Regions from separate parts of the Homo sapiens genome. Here region 2 is reported to be linked to region 1. Evidence: microRNA targets listed by miRTarBase, many of them from high-throughput screens and not tested one by one. Region 1 holds a microRNA gene; the other region holds the end of a gene's coding sequence.
Evidence for each region. The annotated mature microRNA hsa-miR-6511a-5p reads CAGGCAGAAGUGGGGCUGACAGG and lies in region 1 at 3,156-3,178, shown strand. An mRNA with a match to its seed (bases 2 to 7 or 8) in the 3' UTR can be bound and repressed. Matches are read on the target gene's strand: a 7mer-m8 pairs with bases 2 to 8, a 7mer-A1 pairs with bases 2 to 7 and ends in A, and an 8mer does both.

Region 1 (5,172 bases):
CCCCAGGCAGGTGCCTGCAGACAGGGTGCTCACACAGGGCGTGAGGCCTGGCTTCCCAGTGAGGGCAGCAGCCCAGTTACTGGGGACGTCGGCCCCGGGCAGGTCCTGCTGGCTGGCTCCTCAGGCTACCTGGTGGGCTTTAAATTCCTGGAAAGTCACGGCTCTGACAGCGGCTCCGCTAACTCATTCCACCGTCTCATTTCACGAAATGAATTTAAAACTCCGCTCCCTGACCTCACACGAGTCCCCGTGAGTCTCTCACGCCCTCTGCTGTGTTCTCGCCTGGCTAAAGCAAGTGGCTTTTGAGGTGGAGTCCGAACCCCTGATGGGAAACTGCGGGCTGCCCGCGGTGCCACCATGCTGGGTACATGGGGGACAGGGCTGTTCCATCTTGCGGGTACCTGCCCCTTCACCAGGGGCCTTGGGAGGGGCCATGAGAAATGGCGTGACCTGTGCAGCCTGTCCTGGGTTCTGTAAGCCAGTGTAGGTGCTGTCCCTGTGAGGCCCGTGTGCCTCCCCTCACTGCTCCGAGCTCTCTGGCTGAGGAGCTGGGGCAGGAGCCCCGGGAGGGTCTGAGAAGACTCAGAGAGAGGTGGACTCTTTGTAGCTGGTACTAGGTTTGCTTTACAGATGGGGAAACTGAGGCACAGAGAGGTTGAGGCATTAGTAGTACTACATGGCTGGCTGGAGAGCCGGACAGTCAGTGTCCCAGCCCGGGCTTGGCTCTCATGGCATGCAGAGCCCCGGGCACCTCCTCTCCTCTGTGCCCCACGTGGGACTCTCCAGCCCGACGGGAGGTGTGTCCAGGAGGCGACAGGCTAAGGGCAGAGTCCTCCACAGAGCCCAGGCTGACACCAGTCCCCCCGCAGAGGTACAGCCCCGTGGTGGAGGCCGGCTCGGACATGGTCTTCTGGTGGACCATCAACGACAAGCAGTCCCTGACCTTCCAGAACGTGGTCTTCAATGTCATTTATCAGAGCGCGGCGGTCTTCAAGCTCTCAGTAGGTGGGCGGGAGTGGGGAGGGGAGGGGATGGGGCGGGGCGGGGGCGGGCTCCACCTTCACCTCTGCCTTCTGCTCTGCTTCATGCTGCCCGAGGACGCTGCCATGGCTGTGGTGAGTGGAGGGAGGGACGCCAAGCAGGGCAGGCCTCTCACCTGCCACCTGGGCCCACTGATGCCTGTCCCTGCAGCTGACGGCCTCCAACCACGTGAGCAACGTCACCGTGAACTACAACATCACCGTGGAGCGGATGAACAGGATGCAGGGCCTGCGGGTCTCTACAGTGCCAGCCGTGCTGTCCCCCAATGCCACGCTGGCACTGACGGCGGGCGTGCTGGTGGACTCGGCCGTGGAGGTGGCCTTCCTGTGAGTGACTCAGGGGCCGGTTTGGGGTGGGCACCAGGCTCTTGTCCGGGCACCAGGCTCTTGTCCCGGCTCCAGCCTCAGCCGAGGGACCCCACATCAGGGGGTTGCTTTTCTGAGCCTCGGTTTCCCTGTCTGTTGGGAGGTACTGGGTGCACAGGAGCCCTGAGGCTGCACGGGAGCCGGGAGAGGCCTCAGCACAGCCGGGTGGGCCCTGAATGGAGGCCCGGGGCGTGACTGCAGAGTGGAGCCTCGGCTGGGTCCCAAGCACCCCCTGCCCCGCCACCGCGCACCTGTGCCCCGCCACTGCGCACCCCTGTCCCGGTTCACTCACTGCCTCCCACCGCCCCGGCAGGTGGACCTTTGGGGATGGGGAGCAGGCCCTCCACCAGTTCCAGCCTCCATACAACGAGTCCTTCCCGGTTCCAGACCCCTCGGTGGCCCAGGTGCTGGTGGAGCACAATGTCACCCACACCTACGCTGCCCCAGGTGAGGGATGAGGGGGTGAGGGGGCCACTGCCTTTCAGGCTCTGAGCACGGGGCCCCCCCAGTCCCCCAGTCAAGCTGCCCCGCTTCCTCCCCAACAGCCCTCACTGTGACCTCACCTGGGCTGATGGCTTAGGCCCCTACTGGGGTGAGGGAGGGGCCAGGCGTGGGAGGAGTGGACAGGGAAGCTGGGCCCCCTGAACTGCCCCCCACCGCGGCCTGGCTCTTGCTGCTCTGCTGCCCCGAGTGCAGCTGCACTTGGAGGCGGTGCCGTCCTCACCAGGCAGCCCTCAGTGCTGCTGCACCTGTGCTCCGTCCCGCACGTGGCTTGGGAGCCTGGGACCCTTAAGGCTGGGCCGCAGGCGCAGCCGTTCACCCCGGGCTCCTCAGGCGGGGGGCTTCTGCCGAGCGGGTGGGGAGCAGGTGGGGGTGCCGCGGCTGCCCCACTTGGGCCTGTCCCCACAGGTGAGTACGTCCTGACCTTGCTGGCATCTAATGCCTTCGAGAACCGGACGCAGCAGGTGCCTGTGAGCGTGTGCGCCTCCCTGCCCTCTGTGAGTGTGTGCGCCTCCCTGACTGGGGCCTGCTGGTACCCCAGAGTGGGTGTCTGTTCCCCAGTCCCTGCTTTCCTCAGCTGGCCTGATTGGGGGTCTGCCCAGAGGGGTCGTCTGAGGGGAGGGTGTGGGAGCAGGTTCCATCCCGGCTCAGCCTCCTGACCCAGGCCCTGGCTAAGGGCTGCAGGAGTCTGTGAGTCAGGCCTACGTGGCAACTGCGGTCCTCACACCCCCACATACGTCTGTTCCCACACGCATCCCCCCAGGGGCCCTCAGTGAGCATTGCCTGCCTCCTGTCAGGGTCCAGCTGGCTCCAGTACACCAGAACACACACCCCAGTGTCCTCTGCCCTGTGTATGCCCTTCCGCCGCCCAGGTTGGAAGGTGGCAAACCGGATGAGTATCCTGGGAGGGGGTGAGCTCACCGGCAGTGGCCAGGCCCCTGGGAAACCTGGAGTTTGGGAGCAGCATCCTCCACGGGTCCCCCAGACCTTCCAGCAGGCCAAATAGACCTGTGTTGGAGGTAACCCCACTCCCACGCCAGGTGCTGATCCGCAGTGGCCGGGTGCCCATTGTGTCCTTGGAGTGTGTGTCCTGCAAGGCACAGGCCGTGTACGAAGTGAGCCGCAGCTCCTACGTGTACCTGGAGGGCCGCTGCCTCAATTGCAGCAGCGGCTCCAAGCGAGGGGTGAGTGTTGAGCGGGGTGTGGGCGGGTTGGGGATGGGTCCCATGGCCGAGGGGACGGGGCCTGCAGGCAGAAGTGGGGCTGACAGGGCAGAGGGTTGCGCCCCCTCACCATCCCTTCTGCCTGCAGCGGTGGGCTGCACGTACGTTCAGCAACAAGACGCTGGTGCTGGATGAGACCACCACATCCACGGGCAGCGCAGGCATGTGACTGGTGCTGCGGCGGGGCGTGCTGCGGGACGGCGAGGGATACACCTTCACGCTGACGGTGCTGGGCCGCTCTGGCGAGGAGGAGGGCTGCGCCTCCATCCCCCTGTCCCCCAACCGCCCGCCGCTGGGGGGCTCTTGCCGCCTCTTCCCACTGGGCGCTGTGCACGCTCTCACCACCAAGGTGCACTTCGAATGCATGGGTGAGTGCAGGCCTGCGTAGGGGGAGCAGCGGGATCCCCCGACTCTGTGAGGTCACGGAGCCCTCCCGTGATGCCGTGGGGACCGTCCCTCAGGCTGGCATGACGCGGAGGATGCTGGCGCCCCGCTGGTGTACGCCCTGCTGCTGCAGCGCTGTCGCCAGGGCCACTGCGAGGAGTTCTGTGTCTACAAGGGCAGCCTCTCCGGCTACGGAGCCGTGCTGCCCCCGGGTTTCAGGCCACACTTCGAGGTGGGCCTGGCCGTGGTGGTGCAGGACCAGCTGGGAGCCGCTGTGGTCGCCCTCAACAGGTGAGCCAGGCCGTGGGAGGGCGCCCCCGAGACTGCCACCTGCTCACCACCCCCCTCTGCTCGTAGGTCTCTGGCCATCACCCTCCCAGAGCCCAACGGCAGCGCAATGGGGCTCACAGTCTGGCTGCACGGGCTCACCGCTAGTGTGCTCCCGGGGCTGCTGCGGCAGGCCGATCCCCAGCACGTCATCGAGTACTCGCTGGCCCTGGTCACTGTGCTGAACGAGGTGAGTGCAGCCTGGGAGGGGACCTCACATCTGCTGCATGCGTGCTGGGGACCAAGACCTGTTCCCCTGCCTGGAGCTTTGCGGAGGGCTCATCCCGGGCCCCAGAGATAAATCCCAGTGACCCTGAAGCAGCACCCCGACGTTCCGCTCCCAGCAGCCACACCCACCGGGCCCTCTCCGGCGTCTGCTTTCCACAATGCAGCCCCCGCCCAGGAGGGCCCATGTGCTTACCCTGTTTTGCCCATGAAGAAACAGCTCAGTGTTGCGGGTCAGTGCCCACATCACACAGCATCTAGCACGTAACTGCACCCCGGGAGTCGTGGGCATCTGCTGGCCTCCTGCCGGCCTCCTGCCCTGCTGACAGCTTGCTGTGCCCCCTGCCTGCCCCAGTACGAGCGGGCCCTGGACGTGGCGGCAGAGCCCAAGCACGAGCGGCAGCGCCGAGCCCAGATACGCAAGAACATCACGGAGACTCTGGTGTCCCTGAGGGTCCACACTGTGGATGACATCCAGCAGATCGCTGCTGCGCTGGCCCAGTGCATGGTAGGATGGCCCCACATGCTCTCCCCGCCCCGCATGCCTGCCAGGGTACTGGGTTCAGCCCCCCAGGGCAGACGGGCAGCTTGGCCGAGGAGCTGAGCCTCCAGCCTGGGCTCCTTCCTGCCATGGCGTTCCTCGGTCTCTGACCTGCTTCAGTAGCCTCAGCCATTCTGCTGTCCTGTGTGAACGCAGGGTGCCTCTCGGGGGACCCAGGGTGTAAAGAGGGGCCCAGATGTGGGGAGGGACTAAGAAGATGCTGCTCTGTGCCCTCCACTCTCCCCTCCCCTCCCCCTTCCCTCCCCTAGCCCCTCCCCTCCCCTTCCCTCCCCTAACCCCTCCCCTCCCCCTTCCCTCCCCTAGTCCCTCCCCCCTCCCCTAGCCCCTGCCTCCTCCCCCAGCCCCTCCCCTCCCCTAGCCCTTCCCCTCCTCCCCTCCCCTAGACCTTCCCCTCACCTCTCCCCCTCCCCTCTCCCCTCCCCCTTCTCTCCCCTCTCCCCTCTCCCCTCCCCCTTCTCTCCCCTCCCCCCTTCTCTCCCCTCCCCTCTCCTCTCCCCCTTCTCTCCCCTCCCCTCTCCTCTCCCCCTTCTCTCCTCTCCCCTCT
Region 2 (5,000 bases), not on the chromosome of region 1:
GAGTGAACTCAACCGAATTCCCCTTCCTCTCCCAGGTACCATTGCCCAGTGGAAGCACGAGCAGCCCAGGCCGGGGCCGGGGTGAGGTGCGCCTGGAACTGGCTTTTGAATACCTCATGAGCAAGGACCGGCTACAGTGGGTCACCATCACTAGCCCCCAGGTGTGAACCTACCCTCAGCCCTCCTCTGGAGCACCTTAAAGTGTAGAGTTTCCAGTACTCAATATGGGAGGCATTAGTGGTGCTGGGCTCAGAGTGACCACTCTCATCAAGCTGGACACTCTTCTTGCCCTCAGGCTATCATGATGAGCATCTGCTTGCAGTCCATGGTTGATGAACTGATGGTGAAGAAATCTGGCGGCAGTATCAGGAAGGTAGGCAGCAAGTGTGGACTGAGCAGTGAGCAGGTGTGCTCCCCTTGCCTTTTGTCCTAGATGTGAGGCTTGTCTTGAGAGGGAGGGGAAGTGATCCTGCCCTCACCGGCACCTTGTGTCTGTCCCCAGATGCTGCGCCGGCGGGTGGGGGGTACTCTGAGACGCTCAGACAGCCAGCAAGCAGTGAAGTCCCCACCACTGCTTGTAAGTATTACCTCCTGGTCAGAACCCTGGCTCTCAGCCCTGCCTCACCTCTCCTAGTGAGTTTCTGACACCTCTGCCTCTTCTTCCCCAGGAGTCACCTGATGCCACCCGGGAGTCTATGGTCAAACTCTCAGTGAGTTCCAGCGTTGGTGAGGTTGCTGTTTGTTGGGGGATCTTGCACGCCCAAGATCTCTGACCCCACCCTGCCTTTGTTACAGAGTAAGCTGAGTGCCGTGAGCTTGCGGGGAATTGGCAGTCCCAGCACAGATGCCAGTGCCAGTGATGTCCACGGCAATTTCGCCTTCGAGGGCATTGGAGATGAGGATCTGTAATCTCCACTGCTTGGATGTCTGCCCTCTACCCCAGAGGAATTTACAGAAACTTGCCCTGTGCCTGTGTCCCCCATGCTAGGGGCGGAGGGGTCTTTTCCTTCTTCTTTCCTACCTACCCCTTTTCTCTTGGCCAGGGGCCTCGTATCCTACCTTTCCTTGTCCCCTGGGCTGGCTGCACAGAGGATTGCCCCTTCTCTTTTCAGAGCTGGCCCTCGATGCCAAATTAGCATTTAGTATTTTGCACAAAGTCTAAGGGACCATGGCTGCCTGCCTTGGGGAGGAACCATATCTCCCTCTGGGCCGCTTCTGGCCTCTTGGAGCCATGGGCCAAAGGCCAAGGGGATGGGCAGAGGTCTGTGTTTGGTCTGGCCCAGTTCCCCATCATTAAACTCAGCCTGACTGCTGCCTACCTCTGGTTCCCTCTCACTGCCCCTGCTTCCCCCATCACAGCATGGACTACTATGCTAAGGGTAAGGCCAAATTGCCTGCCATTGCCAATTCAGCATAGACATGGCTTTGTTAGTGTTTCCTTTATTATAAAGCACTGAAATAAGTTAAATAAACAGGTGGGAGGCTGGGCAGTCCCCCAGCCGGTTTGTCCACAGCCCCTGGGGGCAGTGGAGGTGAATACAGGGCCCTTCTCACTGAGCTCGTGAAGTGCCTCAGTCAAGGCAAGGTCCCCTGGTCCATATGGGCCCCCCCGCCCATGGGGTTGGGCTGGTCCTTATAGTGCCTACGTTAGTCTGTGTGGAGCCCCTGGCCAGCGGGGGAGAAAAAGGTGGCTTCTGGTCCGTCTGTATAAAACATGGGGAAGAAGGACCTAGTTCAGGATGAGTCTGTGTGGACAGCCCGGCTGCCAGCAGTCCCCAGGGCTGGTGGGCCCCGAGAGCTCAAAACAGAGGGTGGGCTATGAGGTGGGGCCCAGCCCTCAGAGGCAGAGAGACCAGGCCCTCCTGCCCCACCGTGGCCATGCACCTTCTGGTGGCGCTTGTAGTTGTCCCAGTGGCCCGTGGTATAGGCGCAGGTGGCACAGCGGAAGGGCTTCTCGCCTGTGTGCCGCAGCATGTGACGTTTGAGGTTCATGCTCTGGTTGCAGCTGTAGTTGCAAAGGCTACACCGAAAAGGTTTGTCACCAGAGTGGATGCGACCATGACGCTTGAGGTTGGCCAGATTGCCACAGGCATAAGGGCAGAGGGGGCACTTGTAGGGCTTCTCTCCTGTATGGACGCGCTGGTGCCGTTTCAGGTTATCCAGATGAGCAGAGGCATAAGGACAGCGGGCGCAGCGGAAGGGCTTCTCACCACTGTGTGTCTTCATGTGCCGGGCCAGGTGGTTGGGATAGTGAGTGGCAAAGGGGCAGAGGCTACAGGCAAAGCCTTTGTCACTGGGGCCCTGGGGCCCCCCACTGGCACCCCCTCCAGCCTCTCCTCGCATGCAGCGCCCACACATGGCAGCTCCCAGCCGACTACCCTCACCCTCCTCCAGCTCTTGTCCACAGCCCCGGCAGGTCCAAGGGAATAGCAGCTCTGGCAGTGGTTCTGATCCAGTCCCGCAGAGGCCCTCCCCTTCACCCCGCAGCTGCCCACAGTCTGGCAGGAAACTGGCACCACCTGGTGGCACATGGAGGCTCAAATCTGGAAGGAGCAGAGCATCTGTGGGGACAAAGACCTGGGCTATGAATCCAATCCAAGCATTCCTAGGGTCAGCCACCCATGTCCCAAGATCTTTGGTCCCTGGTGTGTCTTACCTTCAGGTCGCCGGGGCACCGCCCCCTCCTGCTCTGTGGGACTGGGAGGCCGGGCTGGTCGTGGAGTACAGCAGCGGAAGCCACAGGTCGGGCAGGGAGGAGTGGGGGGCCCTGCGTGGGTACGCTGATGCCGCCTCAGGTTGCCCAGGCTGCTGCAGGCAAAGGGGCAGTGGGGACAGCGGTAGGGCTTCTCGCCAGTGTGGGTGCGGGTATGTCGTGTCAGGTTGACGAGCTGGGCTGAGGCGTAGGGGCAGCGGCCACAGCGGAACGGCTTCTCTCCGCTGTGTGTCTGCATGTGCCGCTTCAGGTGGCTCGAGTAGTGGGACACGAAGGTGCAGAGGCGGCATGAGTACAGTAGCCGTGGGGGCAGCAGGGGCCCCCCACCCGGCCCTCCTGCCCCACAACACGGCCCCTCACCTGTCGGCCCCCCACACAGCTGGCAGGCTGGGCCTGGCCTCTCACCCCTGGCCTCCCCTGGACCCCTGGCTGGCTCCTCAACTTCACTCTCCGCACTTAGTGCCCGGCCGCCCCCAGACTCATCGTCGCTCAGCCCATAGGGAAGCCCAGGCCTGGCCCCCAGAGAGTCTCCTGGTGAAATAGACATAAGAAGAGACATCAGCATAGGGTAGGATCAGGCTCCAAACTCTCCCCTTTTCACTTATGGTCTCCCCACTTGCTTGGCTCCACCCTTAGCTTTGATGATCCCTTTAGTTCCCTCCTAGGAATCAAGGTCTCCCCTGCAGTAATTCCAGAAAATTCAACATGAATTGTCTACCTCTTACACTGGACTAATCTAGTGATGGTAGAATTGACCTGTATCTAGTTTCCCTCAATGGTCAAGGATCAAGGGCTCACAGTGGATCACAGACTGAAATGAATCCATAATGAAATTAATTCTTGAGACAAGAAAGTAAAAATACGAAAGGGAGAGAGCCCCCAAGACCTTTTTCTAAGCTCTATTGCTAAGGCCCCTTTTAGTAAGGAGCTGATATAAAATAAAACCTATCTCTGAGGCAAAATTTGGAGGGAAGTGGAGACAATGAAAGTAATGCATGTAATACCACTTGCCTGCCTAAAGAACAGATATTTACATGGATCCCCTCAATGACTTTCAAAAAACATCTTGCATAAGTGGATGGGTAGTGCAGCAAATTAGGGTAGGGTGATGCTAAGATCACAGGGAAGAGGGACATGGAAGGATAAAGACAGAAACTAAAACCTCTCAATACAAAAGGAGCTTACGCTGCAGGTGAAAGGGAGTTAGATTAGACCTAAATACTGGGTTGAATGATTTACAGAGAGTTTGCTTCCCTGAACCTCTCTTAAAAGTAAATACACATAAGGAATGGGCTAGGGAGAGAGACAGGGCATTTACTTTTAATCAGTTGCTCCATGTGATTCACCCACCCTCCTATTCCTATCACCTTTGACCAGGCCTCAGAACTTCACCTCAACAAAGTGATGGAAGTGATTGGACCATTAAACAAATGAAGTCATCTAGCTCAAATGTAAACTAAACCAGCCCTCGGTTGTGGCAGGAAATGGTGTTCTGTTCACCTAACCTGCCTCCTGAAGGGCTGGGGTCTCCAGCGGCCGCTAATCCTTAACCAAGACCCGAAAACCCACCTTCCGAGTCTCTCTCGAAGCCCATGAGCTGGTCACTGTTGCCGTCGCCTTCCTCCTCTTCCTCTTCCTCCTCAAACTCCAGATCCTGGCCTAGTAGCAAATCACTCTCCAATACCAGGGCCCCGGGTCCTTCGTCGAGGGAGTCTTCAGTATCCACTGAAGAGGGGAGGGGGCTTGTGGATTCTCCCTCAGGAACCAGCCCTCGTGGACCACACTTCCCGTACTCGCTGACCCACTCTGATTCCCTTAGTGCCTCGGTGGGAAGCTAGGAGTCTGGATCGCCCACTTCATCCCTCAGGAGTCCCCCTCCACCCTGACCTGAGCCCACTCCACTGACCCCACCCCCGCTCCTCTCCCCTCAAGGCCCCTGACCCCTGACCTTTGACCCCCTCGCATTTCACGGGCTGCGGGTGGCTTTGCTTCCTTCGGGGCATCGTGACCGGCTCCAGCCCGACGCGCCTCCGGCCTGCGGCCGCCCGACCCCGCCCCTCCTATCTCGGCCCGCCTGTCTGCCCTTCCTCTCAGGGCCCGCGGGCCGCCCCCATGCAGCGGCGCGGGCCCTGGGCAGCCCCCGGCCCTGGCCCCGGCGCCCAGCTCAGGCCGCTCCCGCCGCCGCCGCCGCTTCCATTCATGGAGCCCCCTACCCCCCTACGGAGACCAGCTGGTACCTCCGTACTCGCTTCCGCTTCCGCCGCCGCAGAGACGCACGGGACGCGTA

Region 2: miRTarBase lists SNX17 as a target of hsa-miR-6511a-5p. Seed matches in the 3' UTR shown: 7mer-A1 at 1,312-1,318.

The regions. Positions count from the first base shown.
Region 1 is chr16:14,922,786-14,927,957 of GRCh38, forward strand. It overlaps MIR6511A1 (microRNA 6511a-1), which reads left to right and starts at 3,152; the gene lies at 3,152-3,218. It overlaps LOC100288162 (a long non-coding RNA gene), which reads right to left and starts at 4,498. Exons shown (of 3, transcript NR_103772.1): 1 at 4,263-4,498; 2 at 3,236-4,042; 3 at 2,965-2,997. It also overlaps the pseudogene PKD1P3-NPIPA1 and the pseudogene PKD1P3.
Region 2 is chr2:27,375,811-27,380,810 of GRCh38, forward strand. SNX17 (sorting nexin 17) reads left to right here. Exons shown (of 15, transcript NM_014748.4): 11 at 36-161; 12 at 296-373; 13 at 503-577; 14 at 669-710; 15 at 796-1,725. The coding sequence ends at 909. It overlaps ZNF513 (zinc finger protein 513), which reads right to left and starts at 4,924. Exons shown (of 4, transcript NM_144631.6): 1 at 4,662-4,924; 2 at 4,283-4,438; 3 at 2,657-3,244; 4 at 1,425-2,561. The coding sequence starts at 4,716. The coding sequence ends at 1,735. RefSeq lists enhancers at 1,892-2,051, 2,666-3,536 and a silencer at 4,677-4,896.